Linked DNA regions of Homo sapiens: region 1 is reported to be linked to region 2. The links are microRNA targets in miRTarBase. Many come from high-throughput screens and were not tested one by one. Region 2 holds a microRNA gene; the other region holds the end of a gene's coding sequence.

Region 1 (5,373 bases), not on the chromosome of region 2:
CTACCGAAGAGAAACCCTGTAAATGGAAAGAATGTGGCAAGGTCTTTAACCTTAACTGTAGTTTATACCTTACTAAACAGCAGCAAATTGATACTGGAGAAAACCTTTACAAATGTAAAGCATGTAGCAAATCTTTTACTCGTTCCTCCAATCTTATTGTGCATCAGAGAATTCACACTGGAGAGAAACCATACAAATGTAAAGAATGTGGCAAAGCCTTTCGCTGTAGTTCATACCTTACTAAACATAAGCGAATTCATACTGGAGAGAAACCTTATAAATGTAAAGAATGTGGAAAAGCTTTTAACCGTAGTTCATGCCTTACTCAACATCAGACAACTCATACAGGAGAAAAACTTTACAAATGTAAAGTATGTAGCAAATCTTATGCTCGTTCTTCAAATCTTATTATGCATCAGAGAGTTCATACTGGAGAGAAGCCTTATAAATGTAAAGAATGTGGCAAAGTCTTTAGCCGTAGTTCTTGCCTTACTCAACATCGGAAAATTCATACTGGAGAAAATCTTTACAAATGCAAAGTATGTGCTAAACCTTTTACTTGTTTCTCAAATCTTATTGTGCATGAGAGAATTCATACTGGAGAGAAACCCTATAAATGTAAAGAATGTGGCAAAGCCTTTCCTTATAGTTCACACCTTATTCGACATCATCGAATTCATACTGGAGAAAAACCATACAAATGTAAAGCATGTAGCAAATCTTTTAGTGACTCCTCAGGTCTTACTGTGCATCGGCGAACTCATACTGGAGAGAAACCCTATACATGTAAAGAATGTGGCAAAGCCTTTAGTTATAGTTCAGATGTTATTCAGCATCGGAGAATTCATACTGGCCAGAGACCCTACAAATGTGAAGAATGTGGCAAAGCCTTCAACTATAGGTCATACCTCACTACACATCAGAGAAGTCATACTGGAGAGAGACCCTACAAATGTGAAGAATGTGGCAAAGCCTTCAACTCTAGGTCATACCTCACTACACATCGGAGAAGACATACTGGAGAGAGACCCTACAAATGTGATGAATGTGGTAAAGCCTTCAGCTATAGGTCATACCTCACTACACATCGGAGAAGTCATAGTGGAGAGAGACCCTACAAATGTGAAGAATGTGGCAAAGCCTTTAACTCTAGGTCATACCTCATTGCACATCAGAGAAGTCATACTAGAGAAAAACTTTAAAAATGTAAAACATGGAGCAGATTTTTTACTTGTTACCCATGTCTTATTGTGCATCAGATAATTTATATGGGAGTGAAACCCTACAAATGTTAAGAATGTGGCATAACCTTTAACTATTTTCAAGCCTTACACAATAGCAGAGAATATAAACTGAAAAAATCCATACAAATATTAAAAATGTGGCAAATTATTTTAAACTGTGCTCAACCCTTACTCAAGATAATCCATACTAGAGAAACACTATAGATGTAAAAATGTGAAAAGTTTTATTCAAAATATCAAACTTATGAGTCACCTAGGGGTTCATAGAAAAAGGAAGTTTGCAGATGCAATAAATGTGAGGAAGTATTTAATAAAAAATGAAGTCTAAATGTGTCAGAGAATTTATGTGAGAAAGGACTAAAGCACAGACACTTTCAGCCTTTATACTAAATAAGAGTATTTTTTGTACAGAATAATCTAAAGGCAAAATAATTAGATAATTTATTTGCTTATATGTTTTAAAGTAGCAAGAACATTGATGTTTTGACAGGTATATTTCATAGATACTTCATTTGTATTTACAGTATTTGAGGTTTTTGGAAAGCAAATATTATTTATATAATTCAGCTTTCAAATCTGTTGCTGCTTTTCCTTAATCCGTGGTGTTCATGTGAAAATATGTGTTCTGTTTTTTTTTCTGCATCAGAACAATGTGAGGTCATTCTACGTTAATATCATTAATATCAGCATTTTTCATGGAAGTTTAATGCCAAATGTAAAACACATGAAAATTTTTAAAAATATGCTCTTTGTGTTTGAATAAAGTAGTAATGCATGTAAACATATACGTGTTTAGAGCTCTTTTCTATATTAAAGTAAGAGGGATATTCTGAATTTTTGAAATTACTTCAATTCCTCCATAAGTTTTTTTTTTTTTTTTTTTTTAAAAAGACTTCATTTAAAGCAGAGGTCCCCATTCCCAGGCTGTAGACCAGTTACTGGTCTGTGGCCTGTTAGAAACTGAGCTGCACCAGTAGGACATGAGTGGTGGGTGAGCAAGCATTACCACCTGAGCTCTGCCTCCTCTCAGATGAGTGGTGGCATTAGATTTTCATAAACCCTATTGTGAACTATGCATGTGAGGGATCTAGGTTGTGTGCTCCTTAGGAGACTCCAACTAATGCCTGATGACCTGAGGCAGAACATTTTCATCCCAAAACCATCTCTCTCCTTGCCAGTTTGTAGAAAAATTGTCTTCCATGAAACCAATCCCTGGTGCCAAAAAGGTTAGGACCACTGAGTTGAAGTACTAACATATCTTTAAAACAGAATAAAGTAGGAGTCTTTAGTATTATTTGATGTGATAGAATACATAGTGAAAAAGTTGAGTATTTGATGTGATGAGAATAACATCTTCACCTGTATCAGGGAAATGTGAAGATAATTCCTATCAACATTCACTAAATAATTAGCCTCACTTTAAAAAAACGTAGAAAACAGAACTGCAAGATTAGTATATTGGAAAAAAAGAATGCTTCTTGAGTACTTGTAACTGTATTTTGACCAGGAAGAATATAGTGGATTTTAAAATGCTGTAGACTATGGGTGAACTTAATTTCTTTTAATAAAATGAGTTGGTTTTTCATGTTTTAACACTGATGTACAATGAATGAAATGTTGTACTGACACCAGTGTTAAACTATTCCATCTTATCTAAGATTGTGGTTAACAGATGGAAATAATATACTATGGGTTAACAGTGAAATGTCTTCCCTAATATTCCTTTTGCTGGAGGACTTAAACTTTCAATAATTTGGAGAATAGTTTTCTCATAGTGACTATCTTAATAATGATTAGATAAGGCAGGTAAGATTGAAAGGCCACAACTTAGCAGCAAATGTTTTACATTCATTTGAGAGCCAGTTTGTAAGTAGTTCACCAAAAGATGTTGGGTTAAAGCAGTGGTTTGAATTAATTGCATAGCATTCATATAACAGAATACAACTCAGCCTAAAGCTCACACCCTATATGAATCTCATAGACCTCGTAAGTGAAAAAAGGTAGACATAAAATTGTGTTTTGTATATTTATGTATTGTATTATTTCAGGCAAAATAAACCTATGGTGAAATAAACACATTGATAGCCTCTGGCTGAGGAAGAAAAGATAGGTGCCTGGGACAAAACACGAGTGAATTTTCTGAAGATGATGAAAATGTTCTGTTTCTAAACTAGGTGAAGGTCGTAAGGGTTTATTTGTCAAAAATTTACAACTAGAGTTTGCGTCAGCCCATTGGTGCTGCAGAGTCTGTTTCCTTTGGGTTGGGACCTCATTCCTTTGAGTTGGGACTTCACCTCATTCAAGTCCTGGCAGAGTCACTAGAAGAGATGTGATGATCTTGTCCCAGACCCCAAGAGTGGGTTCTTGAATCTCACACAGGAAAGAATTCTTGGTGAGTTGCAGAGTGTAGTAAAGTTTATTAGAGACTACTCAGTTACAGAGTAGGGCATCCTCAGAAAGCAGGAAGAGGAATGCCTTGCAATGAGAAGAGATAGTTTATTGAAAGCTCCTCTGTTAGAGTAGGCCTTCCTCAGAAAGCAAGAGGAGAAATGCACCCATTTCAAATGGTTATATAGGTTATTAAGAATGGTATACTTTATTACAGAGGATTCTAATCAGCTTATGACAGGCTATTAGTATTGTTACTTTTCTATGTTACTATTGATTTCAGCAAGAATTTATGAGTACTATTTTTAAAGCAAAACATACTTAAACTAATAATGCTTTTTCTTAAAGTACTGGGACATTTTCTTAAGTTTTGAGTTCTTATTTAGTTGATTAACATCATTAACTCAGTGTTTCAACCATAAACATCTTGTGACCAAGAGTGCCCAGCCCCCTCGGAAAGTAATCCAGCAGGTTTGGCATTTTTTTTTTTTTTTTCTTGAGACAGAGTCTCGCTGAGTTGCCCAGGCTGGACTGCAGTGGTGCAATCTCGGCTCACTGCAATCACCGCCTCTTGGGCGTAAGCCATTCTCCTGCCTCAGCCTCCCGAGTAGCCGGGATTACAGGTGCCCGCCACCACACCCGGCTAATTTATATATTTTTAGTAGAGACAGGGTTTCACCATGTTGGCCAGGCTGTTTTTGAATCTCTGACCTCAGCTGATCTGCCCACTTCAGCCTCCCAAAGTGTTGGGATTACAGGTGCGAGCCACTGTGCCCGGCCATAGGTTTGGCTTTACCTGGCCTTTATTCAAGATAGGGCCTCTAGTTAGGATACTTCTGGCAGAATTAGCATGATTGTTATCTGAGAGTGGTCTATCACACTGCAGTGAGGAAGGGTGTTGAACAGCGACTAAGGTGTAATGGCTGCTCATTTGGCTACAGAGGTCCAGCTAGCAGCAAAAGTATAATGACTTGAGTAGGAATTACAGTTAGGAAAAGGATTTTTAAAGAGCTCTATAGTCCAAAGTTGACTTAATAAAAACTGATATTTACTCTACGTACATACACATATGCATGGTTTTAAGATCTCCTCTCTCTGTAAAAGTCAAATGAATTCTGTTTCTCCATTTACTTCTGTCTGTCCTTCCTCTTGCCACTCCAAATGCCACATGAGGGGAACGCCCCCCAAAAAAAGAATTCTAACAGAATTCTAGCCTAGAATCACAGAAAACAGAAAAGTTGTCACAGTCTCCTCCTCTTGGGAGGAAACTGCTTTTTCTCATGAGGCCCTCAGAGTTGTAAGCAGAGAGATCCCTCTCAGGTCTAACACTCTGCTCTTTCTTGTATTGCATTACTTGATCTCCTTGGCTTTGGGGGATACCAGAGATTACATTGTACTATGAGAGAACTTGACTAGGTGGATGTAATTGCTGGTGAGTCACTGGCAAGAGCTATGGTGTTAGAGGGCTGACAGCAGTCGCTTACAGTAAATGTTTATTACTCTAGGGAGTTGCTTATTTCTTTGGGTGTTTGGATAGAAAAAGTATGGTTTAGAATGTAGAGGCTACAGAAACAGCCCCCAAGCCACCCCACCGAGGGGTAAGACACCCATGTGGGATGCAGTAATCATAGTGTGTGCTGGCATAGGATTGCCTACCAACCTCAAATGAATGTCCCTCTACTGAGGTGCACTATGGAATCATTGAACTGCCCAGTCCTCTGGCATGGCATTTCTTTTGGGG
Region 2 (5,373 bases):
TACCCACCCCATACTCTTTGCTAACACCCTGCCATCACCCCTTCCCCTCCCCACCCAAGGCTGGGAAGTCTGGTCTCTCTTCCTTAGTAGAGTTCAGAAAATTGTAGTAAGGGAAACTGAGGCAGAAGGCTGAGGAGTGACTTCCTGAGATCACCACCTCATCAAGCTGGATTGTCCTCTGGGGAGATAGACCAGCTAGAAGGGCAGAGCCCTGTAGTGGGGGTGTGTGGGAGCAGGACAAAGAGTCCTCGGGAGCAGGAAGGGTGGAGCATTAAGCAGTGTCTAGGGGAGAGCGGATGGCTTTGGCCAAGGTACCCAGATGGAGCTCTGAGGTCCACGGGAGGTAGTTCCTGGGGGTAACATCGCCAAGAGGTCTGCATAGTTTCTGGGCCAGGGCACCTGCTCTGACCCTTCCAGGATATTTTCTAGCCACCCTGCCTTCTGGGCCACCGCTGACCTGGAGTAGGCTGAGACTCTAGTGGCCACTCTGCGGAGGCCCCAGCTTGCCTGCCCTGGGTGCCAGCTCCCCAGAGACCCTCCCTCCCACCCTCTCCCTTCTTCCCGTCCTTCCCCAGGGCCTGTGACACCAGAGGCAGGGCCTCCACAGCAACTTCTCTCTAGGCAGCTGCTCTGGCAACCACTGATGCAACCTTCCCAGCCCCTCCCTCGCTCCTGAGCCTCCGCTTTCCTCCGCAGTCACTCCAGAGCCAGCCAGGAGCCACTCCCTTGCTAGAGTGCATCCGTGCCTCCGGCTCCCTCCAAGCCACCTGGGTGGCTGCAGGACTTCTCTTCTGCCCTCCTTTCCTGGCCTTTTCCTGCCTTGATCCTAGGCCGGCAGCAGAGATGCCCAGCCTGGGCGGTTCACAGTCTGGCCCAATCTGGTCTGGTTTGGGATGGGAGTGGGGGTGAGCAGCAGATTCGGTTTGTTCCTGGGGCTCTGTTTCTGCCACAGGGCAGGCTGGGGGGTGGAGGATAATGGAGACCAAAGTGCCTAGGAGCCTGGGCTGCTGGTGTCTGGGCTCAGAGGCTACGAGAGGCATCTTGGATGTCCCACTGGTCACTGCCCCTGTGGCAGGTTGGGTAGAGAGGAGGCTCTGGCCAGCTGCTTGCCTCTCCGAGCCAGAGTTACTCTGGCAAGGAGATGGATGGTCCTGACCCACTCCCTCCCCAGCCTGGAGGCGCAGTCTGGGTGATGTGGAGGGATGTGGGCCTTCAGGTGGAGATAGGAGACACCTTGGTGTGGTCTTCTCCTCTGCAAGGCCAGAAGGTCAGCTCCTCTCCCGCACTGTCCCTGTCTCCTTGAAGGTCATCTTGGGCTGATGGGGCATGTGGATCTTGTGAAGAGGTGGGATGGGGTGGGGGGTAGAGACCGTAGCAGCCGCTGCTGAGGGCCTGCTGGGGGGCCCCCAAGGGAGTGGGCAGGCTAGGAGCAGGGAACGGGCATCGTGGGCCGCTGGTCTCTCCGCAGGGTCGGCAGGCCGCAGAGTGTGACTCCTGTTCTGTGTATGGCACTGGTAGAATTCACTGTGAACAGTCTCAGTCAGTGAATTACCGAAGGGCCATAAACAGAGCAGAGACAGATCCACGAGGGCCTCCGGAGCACCTTACCCACTTCTGCCTTGAGTGCTCCTAGACGTCGGAAACAGGCTGCTTCCAAGGGTGCAGGGATGCAAGGCCCCTCGTCCAGTGTGTCCCCAGAGAGCCCGCACCAGTGCCATCTGCTTGGCCGATTTTGGCACTAGCACATTTTTGCTTGTGTCTCTCCGCTCTGAGCAATCATGTGCAGTGCCAATATGGGAAAAGCAGGACCCGCAGCTGCGTCCGCCTCCCCTGCATCCTTGTGTCAGGGCCCCAGCCTGCTCCTCCTCAAGGCCTCCTCACCGCCTCCCCAGCCCATCTGGCTCAGCTGCTGTGTGAGGGCCCAGCGCTGGTGGGCAGCCAGATCGCCTTACACTGCCTGGGGCCACGGTAGAGCTGGGAGCCCAGCAATCTGAGCTGGGCCAGCAGATGGGGCCGCCCAGGGCAGAGGTGGGGGAGTCTGAAACCATCTGTAGGGCCATCCTGAATGGTGCCGTGGGTTGGAAAGGCCCAGCCAGGCTCCCAGCACACGCTTGGGGTGAGACCTTGGCTGGCAGCACAGGGCCTGGTCTTTTCTGCTGCAGGTTGTGAAGGGGGCAGCTCCAGGCAGGTGGGCTGCCCTTGAGGTCAGCCTGGGTGTTTCCAGGGGGGCTACCGTCTCTGGAGCTGTAGCCTGCTGTGGAGTGGGTCATCTCCGAACAGCTCCAAGAGGAGGATACTTAGTGGGGCTCGGAGTTGGAGGGCATTTTCAGGCCTGCCCCTAGAAGGTTCTGGAGCAGAGGCCAATGTTCCCCTTCACACACCACACACTGGTAATGTAGCTTCCTGGGTCCCTGGATCTGGGCTATGACTAACTGGCCTATGCTCTCCATCTGGGTGTCAGGTGACATTACATATATAATCCCAACAGTTCCCACCTCAGCCCTGTGGGGCTTGTAATTTTTTAAAATAGTTATCTCATAGATGGGGAACCTGAGGCTTTGAGAGGAAAGGCTTGGCTGAAGAGGTTGGTGAGTGGTAGAGCTGGGTCACTGTGGCTCTTCCGCCACCAGCCACACCTTCCATGGAGGCACCCAGGGCCTGGAGGTGTCTCAGCTCTGAATCTACAGGCCTGGGCTCCCAAGGATGCCCCAGATGGCAGAGACTGAGGCTGGGAGGCCTGGACCTAGTCTGTCAAAGCTGGGGAGAGCCTGGCCAGCCAGGCTGGACCCATGTGAAATCTGGTGGTCAGCAATCAAGCAGGAGACCAGTGGCCGACTTGGGACCAGCTGGGAGCTATCATGCCCCAGGTCACTGGGCCAGCCCCTGATGGGGCTGCTTCTCCCCAGGGAGCCTCAGGCAAGGGTTGGTGGACTTAGCCCAGATCAGTGGGAGTCATTTTAGGTGTCTGAGCCAGGGAGTGCCCGGGTGGGGGATGTGTGTGGTTGAAGCTGGCAGCTGGAGGATGACGGGTCCAGTTGACTGCACAGCAGGAACATGGTGACCAGTGCTGCCTGCCTGGGTGCCCTGGGGACTGCCTTGGGTGGGTTGGGCCTTTTTTTTCTTGTCAGTTAGCTATCACCAAACCGCGAGGAGCCCCCAATAAATTCCCTCTGGGGTGTGGTGCCCGTGTTTCTCTACAGAAGCTCTCCAAGCCCCTGCAGAAAAAAGGAGGGGCTTGTTTATTTCAGGATAGAAGGGGACTTCTGCCCTGGTGAGGTGTCCCTGTAGCTAGGTCTCTCTTCTGATGGCCCCAGCTCTCCCTCTGCCCCTCGGAACCTGGCTGGCCTGTGCCGCACCCTGTCTCTGTGCTCCAGTCCTCCGCCCCGGGTGCTTCCTTAGGGCGTCCTGCTGCAGGTCCCATGGGATAGGAAAGAAGGGATTTCCCGGCCTGAGTGAGAATGAGCCCTGGAGGTGGGGTGGGCACAGAGACCCAGCAAGGGGGGGTGGAAGGCCCCTGGCAGTGACCGGTTCTAGAGCTTTTCCCTGGAGCCTCTGGAGTGTCTGGCCAGGGTTCTGCTCCTTCCTGCCTAGCGGGGAAGGCCGGATGACAGAAGCTGCCCTCAGCCCCTGGGTGGTCTGCAGCTGGGCTCCACCTCCTCACACCTGCCCAGGTGGGCGCCTTTGCTGAGCCCCGAGTGCAGGCACTGGTGTGGGGGCGTGCCTCCACCAGGCTTCAGGCCCGGCTGCTCTGGGGCCCTGCTCCAGCGCTCCAGGGGAGGACCTCAGGCCAAAGCTAGTTTCTAGATCTCCTAATTTACCTAGTTCCGGGCCAGACCTGGGTGGTGAGTTCACCCACAACAGTGACTGTCCCAGAGAGTGGGGGCCACCACAGCTGGCCCTCCTCCCTAAAGACACAATTTCCTACCACCCAGGCTGGGGGCACTTAGGATAGGAGAGGGCCCCTCTTCACCTCCCCACCCTGCAGAACAGGTCCTGGATCCTCCCTTGTGTGGCTTCCAGAAGGTCTGTGAGATGGGCAAAAGGTTCTGCCCATGATCTGTCCAATGGTGTCCAGTGTCAGGCAGGAACGCTGTCCCACTGCAGCGAAGGCCTTTCTTGCTGGAGCGGGAGGGTCACTGAGAAGCACTTTTTGCTTTGTTTTTCTGTTTGTCAAAAGCAGCGGCTCCCAGATGCCCGGGTTTAGGGCGTCCCCCATGTCGGGCACCTTGCTTGGCCTGTCTGGGTGCGTGGAGCGGCAGGAGGGGCAGCTCCCTGGAGGGCTGTATGAGTGGGTTTTCCAGACTCCCCGCCTCCCCCACCACTCCATTTGCTTATTCATTCCAGGCCATTATCCCAGCCTCTGCCCAGCCTCAGGCGGGTCGAAATGCGATCCGGCACCATTGATCGCCTGCAGCCCCAGGCTGCCGATGGAGCCCGGCTGGTGCGGCCACAGCTGGGTGGGGAGGAGGACAGGACCCCCCACATACACACTGGAGGAGGGTGGGAGTGGCCTCCTCAGCAAGTCCCAGGCTTGGGGGCTCCATGGGACCAAGAGAGCCCAGTGCTGCTGATGTCCCAAAGCAGGCCCGCCCACCCTCGGAGAGGCTTCCAGAGTCGTGCCTCTGCTCAGAGGCCAAACCTTCCCCACCAAGCCTCTCCTTTCGGGCAGAGGTGTCCTCCCCAGCGCCCAAGCCCAGGCTGCCGGTCCGGTCTGGGTGCCACCGAGGTCCTGGACTTGGCCCTGGGGATGGCCTGGATCTGTTTGCATCTTAAGCCATCATCCCATCTCACTCCACCCTAAAGGGCAGGCAGGATGGGAGGGGTGGTGGCGGTGGCGGCGGCAGCGGTGTCATTTTGGGGGCCCTGCCAAGTCAGCTGCTCCCCCAGCCGGGGCATGTTCGGAAAATGAGCCTGCTCATGGTGGGCCCATACTGCCCAGGAGGCTTGAGGGCAAAGAGTCCCTTCCAGGCTGCAGGGGAGGCATGGGGATGCAGGGTTGGGGGCAGGCAGCCTGCACCCTTGCTAAAGGCTTGAGATGCCTTCAGGACACTTCAACACCCCTTGGGAAAGGACCTGGCCTCATCAGGGGAAGTGGGAACACGGAAGTGTGCTGCCCTTGGGTAAGTGACTGGCGGTCTGGGGAAATGCCACTCCGAGAATCAGATCGCAGCCAGCCCTCAAAGGGTCTGGGTGTGTGCAGGGCTGCTGGGTGTGTGCAGTGGGTTCTGTGGTCAGGAGAGTGCCGTCTGGATGGGAGATATTTGGTTGGTTTTAGCTTGGCCCATTCCTGCCACTGACTGATGGCCCCAGAGGCTGCCTGTTCCCGTTCCTGGGTAGAAGGTCCCAGCGCCATTGTTTGTCCACTGCTTTTAG

What was found. Region 2 holds the annotated microRNA hsa-miR-183-3p (GUGAAUUACCGAAGGGCCAUAA, at 1,544-1,565, shown strand). A microRNA usually pairs through its seed, bases 2 to 8, with sites in the 3' UTR of a target mRNA and lowers its output. Matches are read on the target gene's strand: a 7mer-m8 pairs with bases 2 to 8, a 7mer-A1 pairs with bases 2 to 7 and ends in A, and an 8mer does both.
Region 1: the mRNA of ZNF267 is a reported target of hsa-miR-183-3p. Seed matches in the 3' UTR shown: 7mer-m8 at 1,804-1,810.

The regions. Positions count from the first base shown.
Region 1 is chr16:31,915,280-31,920,652 of GRCh38, forward strand. ZNF267 (zinc finger protein 267) reads left to right here. Exons shown (of 4, transcript NM_003414.6): 4 at 1-2,078. The coding sequence ends at 1,202. Among named protein-coding and RNA genes, the nearest start is that of ZNF267, 44 kb to the left of the region's middle.
Region 2 is chr7:129,771,120-129,776,492 of GRCh38, reverse strand. It overlaps MIR183 (microRNA 183), which reads left to right and starts at 1,479; the gene lies at 1,479-1,588. It overlaps MIR96 (microRNA 96), which reads left to right and starts at 1,724; the gene lies at 1,724-1,801. RefSeq lists enhancers at 2,399-3,260, 4,987-5,373.